Homo sapiens: one gene and its partner. The protein of the gene in region 1 purifies or fractionates together with the protein of each later gene. This does not show direct contact. Each region holds a gene or a part of one and is shown in the gene's direction. Other genes may lie near its edges.

The links.
Region 2: the proteins of TESMIN (region 1) and MTHFD2L purify together in Homo sapiens (affinity purification with mass spectrometry; one large-scale study listed by BioGRID and IntAct). This does not show direct contact.

Annotation. Positions count from the first base shown.
Region 1 is NC_000011.10:68,710,113-68,713,560, reverse strand, and holds part of TESMIN (tesmin), read left to right. Parts: intron 1-153; coding exon 154-291; intron 292-2,511; coding exon 2,512-2,687; intron 2,688-3,448.
Region 2 is NC_000004.12:74,199,486-74,203,143, forward strand, and holds part of MTHFD2L (bifunctional methylenetetrahydrofolate dehydrogenase/cyclohydrolase 2, mitochondrial), read left to right. Parts: intron 1-308; coding exon 309-461; intron 462-1,777; coding exon 1,778-1,885; intron 1,886-2,978; exon of another isoform or gene 2,979-3,148; intron 3,149-3,658. UniProt on the Homo sapiens protein: Bifunctional mitochondrial folate-interconverting enzyme that has both NAD/NADP-dependent methylenetetrahydrofolate dehydrogenase and methenyltetrahydrofolate cyclohydrolase activities.

The DNA of each region.
Region 1 (3,448 bases):
AAACAAGAAGGGGCTGCACCTTCTGAACCATGTCAAGAGACTCTGTTTATTGTGGCATCTTTTACAACAATCAGATTCAAATGAGATGCCCTTCATTGAGCTGAGTTTTAAATGATAAAATCCATCCTGATGGAGCTTCCCATTCTACCCTAGGCATGTCTTGGTAGAAATCCAGAAGCTTTCCAGCCAAAAATTGGGAAGGGCCAATTGGGCAATGTCAAGCCCCAGCACAACAAAGGGTGCAACTGCAGGAGGTCAGGCTGCCTGAAGAATTACTGCGAGTGCTATGAGGTTAGTGCCCAGCTCCCTAACTCACTAACAAAAAACACAGGTAAATATGTTGAGTAACTTTTGTGGTTAAAAAAACTTTGCTGTAATTTAAAAAGATAAATATAATTATTTTTTTCTTCCAGAGTTTCTAGAAGGACACTTACATCAATCTGAATTAATTTCCCAAATACAGCTGAGCTTTGTGAACCGGGTCAATTTGCTGAGGGCTCCTTTTGGAGCATGTTGCTTCCCCTGAGCCCAGCCCTGAGTACCCAGTGAGGGTGCCCTCTGCGTGGCTTTGTCCCTCTGTGGCCACTGATCCACGCTGGTCCTCCAACAGGGTGGAAGCTCCCGGAGGGCAGCCGCGCCTCTTCCTCCCTGAGCAAAGCCCAGGTGCTCTAGGTGGGGCCGTGGGGGACAGTTTGGCCTCAAAGTCTCAGTCAGTTCCAAGTCCCTGTGGCGCTTGTCCCCAGACATCCATTCACCTGGTGCTTTGACCAAGGGTAGCTCCTCCCTGGCTCACAGCCCCATCAGAGACCAGAATGGACAGCCAGCCTAAGCCAATGGAGAGAGGCTAACAAAGCAAGCTGCAGATCACGGCCTGGACAAAAGCTTTTTCTTTTCCCAAAGATTAATGAGGACCCACTTTCCCCTTCAGTGCTGTCGCAGTTTCACCTCTCTTTGCTATTTCTCTTTTCCTTTGTGTTGAGGGAAAGGAGGAAAGAGAAAGTGAGGGAACCCTTAGGCCCTATCAGGGGAACAGCCGAGCAAACCTTCCTTACAAACCTCTGTTTTGGTTTGCTTGAGGTCTTTTGGGGGTTCCTGTGAATTATACTTTTCAAAGGCTGTCTGTCACAGAGGGTTGGGCTTGAGAACAGTCCACCTGATTCTGGAGACATGCACTGAAAGACCTGGGAAGGTGGACCCCACACTCCCCAGCTCGGATGTGGAAAACACAGTCAAAACACGACAGAGATGCACAGTTGAAATGGGACTGACATCACCCCCGAGGAACCACTTCCAATCGCACCCACAGCAGCTCCTCTGTCCTGCAAAACACCTTCACTGGCTGCCATGGAACTGTGGCTCAGCCCACTTCCCCAAGGCAGAGCCTATGCTGGGCACAGCCCACAGAATGTGCAGGCTCAGAGGAAAGGGATAGCACTGCCCTTTAGTCTCTGGCATTCGTGTAGACTAGAAACTCTATAAAGCCTCCTGCTTCAAAACACCCAGAGGTGCAGATGAAACAGAACGCATCCCCCTGAAGATGCATCTCTCAGCTGGAAAGAACAGAGGGAAATCCCCGGGGGGCTGAAGGAAAGAGAAAGCCAAAAACCATAGTGATTGGCAGTGCCAGCTCTTGGTCAGCCCCTGGGGCCCACATGAGCAAGAATTTGGCATGAGGGGGCAAGAGGGGGCTTGCTGGGTACAGATGGGACATGCCGGCCCCCTCAGCATCACATTGCCAGGAAAAGCTTGAAACAAAATCCACCCACAAGGCAGCAGGAGAGGTCTCCCCTGACAGCTCCCAGCCACAGGCCTGCTCTCAGGCAGATTTCGAATTCTACTCTCTTGTACATTCTCTGCACCCATAGAACCAGCATAATAGCCTCACATGCTGAAAGAGAACCATAAGCTAGAGTTTTATAATCAGCTAAGGCAGGCTTTCTTCAAAACAAGTCAAAGAAGCAGCCTGCTGGCTCCCGGGTAGAGAAGGGAGAGCAACACCCTCTCTCTGCTTGGGACTCACACCCATACACTCGGCCTCCACTCTGTCAGCAGCAGGACTATGGCATCTCCACAACAGCAGCACTTGATGAAAACTGCAGGTCACACACACACACACACTCTCAAACGCACACATTCAAACACACACAGTCACACACACATTCACATTCACTCACACATATACACACACATACCCAAACCCCACATACACTCATGCACACACACGCACACTCGACACACACACACCCCACACACACTCATATACACGCTCAACACACACACACTCTTACACATTCACACTCAACACACACACACCCCACACACACTCATACACACACTCACGTTCAACACACGCTCTCACCCACACATTCACACTCAACACACACAGACACACACACACTCTCTGTCATGGGCAAATATACGCGAAGAATTATTTAAGGTCCAAATAGAATTTGTCAGTTTTTGATGACTTGTGAGACAACCTAATTTTATTGAAGCATTTTATATTACCAGGCCCAAATTATGTGTTCTTCTATTTGCAAATGCATTGGTTGCAAAAATTATGAAGAAAGCCCAGAACGAAAGACACTAATGAGCATGCCAAACTACATGCAGACTGGAGGTTTGGAAGGCAGCCATTACCTGCCACCAACGAAATTTTCAGGACTTCCAAGATTCAGTCACGATAGGTAGGTACTTTGAACTAACCTCTGCTAATAGAGGGAACAGAGGTTAATTTGAGAGGAGAATTAACGACAATTTATACACTGGAAAGAATGTGTGAGCCTGCAGGGGCGGGCGTGTGTTTGGGGGCAGAGGGAAGTCGTTCCTCCCTCCATGGGCTAATCCTGGGTGGCCACTGTGTTTCCTTAGAGGCCCCGCTGCAGAAACCTGTTTTGTCCTCTTTGTCTTCTCATCCTCACTGTCTGAGTTACTCCCGTTTTGTACCAGACAAAAGAGCCCTGCTGCCAGGATCACCAGCAGGGCTAGCAGAGTTCTGACACTGCCTTTGCGTTAATATAGAGCCACAACGACCCAGCGCAGCAAAGACAGTGCGTACCTCCCTATCCTTTATCGTGGGAAGTGGCAGCAAAGAGCTGTACTTGGTCCAGATTGTTTTCCTTACTAAGCAGTTGTGGATCCGGATTAGTTGGATAATTTTGCATTTATCAGTTTTGAAGCCACATTGTAATCCTAGTAGTTCTCAAAGTTGAGTCATAGTTTTACTATCTATTAGATTCCATTCATTTGTTTAAAAAAAACTTCGAGTTCAATGTAATGGTCATATCATGATAAACTACCAGATGTCATTAATTAATATTTTGCAAAGCCAAATTCATGCTTATTTGGTTAGAGAGATATCAGAAATACTCATGATTGTGACCTACAGGGGTCTTTTTTTTGAGACCAGGGCTTTCACTCAGTTGCTCAGGCTGGAGTGCAGTGGTGC
Region 2 (3,658 bases), on another chromosome or scaffold:
ACATGACACCTGGCTATTACCAGATCTCATTGGTATTGTTTAATTCACAATTTTTTTTCTTTCACCGGTCCAGCCACTTTTGGCTCTGGAATAGCATATACTCCAACTGCAGTTCATTACAGCCATCAGTCAAGAGCACTTTGGCTTACTATTTTGGTGGCAAATAATAATAATAATAATAATAATGACTTTACACCTTTTTTAGAGCCGAATTATAAGTGATGTGGCTTTAGATTCTCAGATTTCATTTTTCAGGCTACCAAATAAATAACAATTTTAAAATTAGACAAATTTTATTTATTTTTCAGACCACGTTGATGAGCGAACAATATGCAATGGAATTGCCCCAGAAAAAGATGTAGATGGATTTCATATTATCAATATTGGAAGATTGTGCCTTGATCAGCATTCTCTCATACCTGCCACTGCCAGTGCTGTTTGGGAAATAATAAAAAGAACAGGTTGGTAATTTGTGGTCTGCAGGACATGGATGCTAGGTGCTGAGCTGAGCCTTTGTGCACTGAGACTTGATGGGACTACCTCAGTCCTATAGAGTGACAGAAAATCATAATCCATAAAACGTCAGTGTACAGAGAGATATAAAATTGTAGAAGTCAAAACATAATACAATCCTGGCTAACACAGTAAAACCCTGTCTCTACTAAAAATACAAAAAATTAGCCAGGTGTGGTGGCGGGCACCTGTAGTCCCAGCTACCTCGGAGGCTGAGGAAGGAGAATGGCATGAACCTGGGAGGCGGAGCTTGCAGTGAGCCGAGATCATGCCACTGCACTTCAGCCTGGGCGACAGAGCAAGACTCTGTCTCAAAAACAAAACAAAACAAACAAAACAAACAGAAAAAAAAATCCAAAATAAAATGAAACGAAGAGCATTAGCCAGATTATAGATAACTGCAGTTGCAACTTATAGGAAGTGAATTTTCCACATAGTAGTGGTATATGTCGGCCTTTAAAATGTAAACTTCATGCATTTTGATGAAAACTTTTCTAAAATATATTTTTCTGTACCTTTAAAAATATGTTCTGATCACATAGTTATCATTTCTATTGGCTTGGGTTTTAATTTTAAACATTTACCCTTGTACTGTACTGGATACGGTAATGCTCTCACAGACTCTTACAAAAGAAGTTTTCTTTCTGAGAAAGAAAAACTTCCAAGGGAAAACAGATCCTAGAATCATACTCCTACACTGTTAGTATTGGAAAATCCTTAGTTCTAACTTCTTTGCTTTACTTATGAAGAAACTGAGTCCAAAAGAAGTAGAAGGTTCTACAGGCTTTATTTTTTTACATCTTTCTAAGTCTGTAAGTTTAGTGCTTCTTTCCTATGGAGTAAAATGCATGAGCTTTGTGAAAAATGCCTCTTTTCTTACTTGTTTTGTTCCAGCGTTGCTCAAAATTTGATTGCCAATTAAGTTCGACATTGTTGTACTTTGCTTTTTTTATAAGCAGTTAATATATGTTAAAACTCTACTCTTCTAACTCTTAATGTGACTCTCAATGTTTAAAAGCAACTTAATGTCAACTTAAGAATGTCTGTGGTTTTTAATGAGTACATAATCAGAGAAGAAGTGACAAATCAAAGAAGCATAAAATGAATTATTTATAAATAATGAATGTGCTCATATTATAGATAAGCCACATAATAATTCAGATTTAATTAGAAATTTTTAAAAGAATGTTTCAGTTGGCTGTACAAATGTTTAATTTACTTCTTGTTGTCAATTCTGCATTTAAACCGAACTCTGTATTTTAAGGAATTCAAACATTTGGAAAAAATGTGGTTGTGGCTGGAAGATCCAAGAACGTAGGGATGCCTATTGCCATGCTTTTACACACTGATGGAGAGCATGAACGGCCAGGAGGTAGGTAGAACCTTGCAGATTCTACACTCTCTCGCAGTATTCTTACTTCTTACATCATCAAGTAAACACTTTTGATAATGCAGCTTATTATATTTGTGGGTTTATGCAGTTCAAAGTCTCCTTTATTCCTCATTTAGTGATGTGAGAGTCTTGAAAGTGACTGTAGGAATTACTGAAAATATGTGGCCATTTTCTCTATTTTTTTTTTTTTTGGCTATATGCACTTTGTTTAAATAATTAACAATTAGACATTAAGAAAGGTGCAAAGCTACTAGATACAAAAGATTCACATGCCCTCAGGAAATACAAAACAAGACATCTCTTGGATGTAGAATTCCTGTAGTGGCAAGGTCTTAGCACTTTAGAAATCAGCTAGTTAGTTTATTTTACAGACAAGAAAGCTGAGGCTTAGAGTTGTTATCTGATTATATAGGTTAAACAAATAGTCATTGTCCTATGAGTAGTAGTGACACTCCAAGTCACTGACAAAGCCCAGGAAGATGTGTTAGCCTTAGAGAACATGCAGCCATTCCAGGTGTTGGTCATCTGAACATCATCCCAAGACCTTGGTTTCTTCAGCAGTCTAATAGCTAGATACAGAATAGCTCCCCAGAAATTTGCAGGGGTCTGTCCCACAGACCCTGACCCAACGATGGATGAATAAAGTACACTGACACACAGATATTCTGCTTTACCAGTCCAGCTGAGCATCTGGGCCGCTTACAGACTCCACGCACAGTGCTGTAAACAGTTGCGACTATGGTCTCAATCAGTCAGCAAGACTTATGTTTATTCAGTAAAGATTAATTGACAAAGGCTTGGGTCAACACCACTAGAGTGTAATTGACATTGTGGACTTCCCAAGTAGAAAGCAATTAAGCACCCATGGTAGATCAAAGGTTAGTCTTAGGACCACACGAGTAAACAAGCTAGTTAGGTAAACTCTCCACATTCCTTTATTTCTACTCTAGTTTATTTAACTAAAGATAAGGGGACTAGGCTGCCTTCAGACTGATTTATTACTGAAGTTATGCAAACCCTCAGACCTTCCAACAAGGTTTGTGGCTATTAAAACTAAAATTTTTCCCACCAGCCTGACTGAACCACCACAGAAATGGAAATGGAGATGGAATGAAAAGGAAATACAGCAAAGGGGTGATGGGGCATTGTTCGTGGTTGTCTGAGCCAGTGCTGTGGGAGGAGGGCACAAGGGTTATTCAGCGTATCACTGTCTGCTAAATTCTGCATCTTGTTCTAATCTAGGTAAAACACCAAGTTTTCATGTTCTTAATAGAAGTAGTTATTGGTTTATCTATGTGTTAGAGACGTGTTGTACTTTGTTTACCATTTATTACTTCTAATCTTTCTCCCCCTAATTTTTGATACAGTACTTCATTGGTTTCTCTAATTCCAAAGAAGAGGATGGGCTACTTTGCTGCTTGCTTTCTAATATTTAACCAGAATGATAGACACCTATGTGCTCATCATGTACAGCACACGCACACATGCACACATGCATGCACACACACAGCATATATATATAGATTTCTTATTATTAACCTTGTTGAATTCGAGTTTCCTGATCTCAAACTTTCAATAATACTTGTTTTAGGATCTTGATTGACATGATACTTATGACATAATTTTTAAAACACAAAGCTCTATGGAAAAATAATCCCAGTATTAACTTATCTAAAATGATGAATGATGACACTTTTGAATAATATTTTCCCTTTCTATGCCTAAAGAATTAAATATTGCCAGAAATCAATA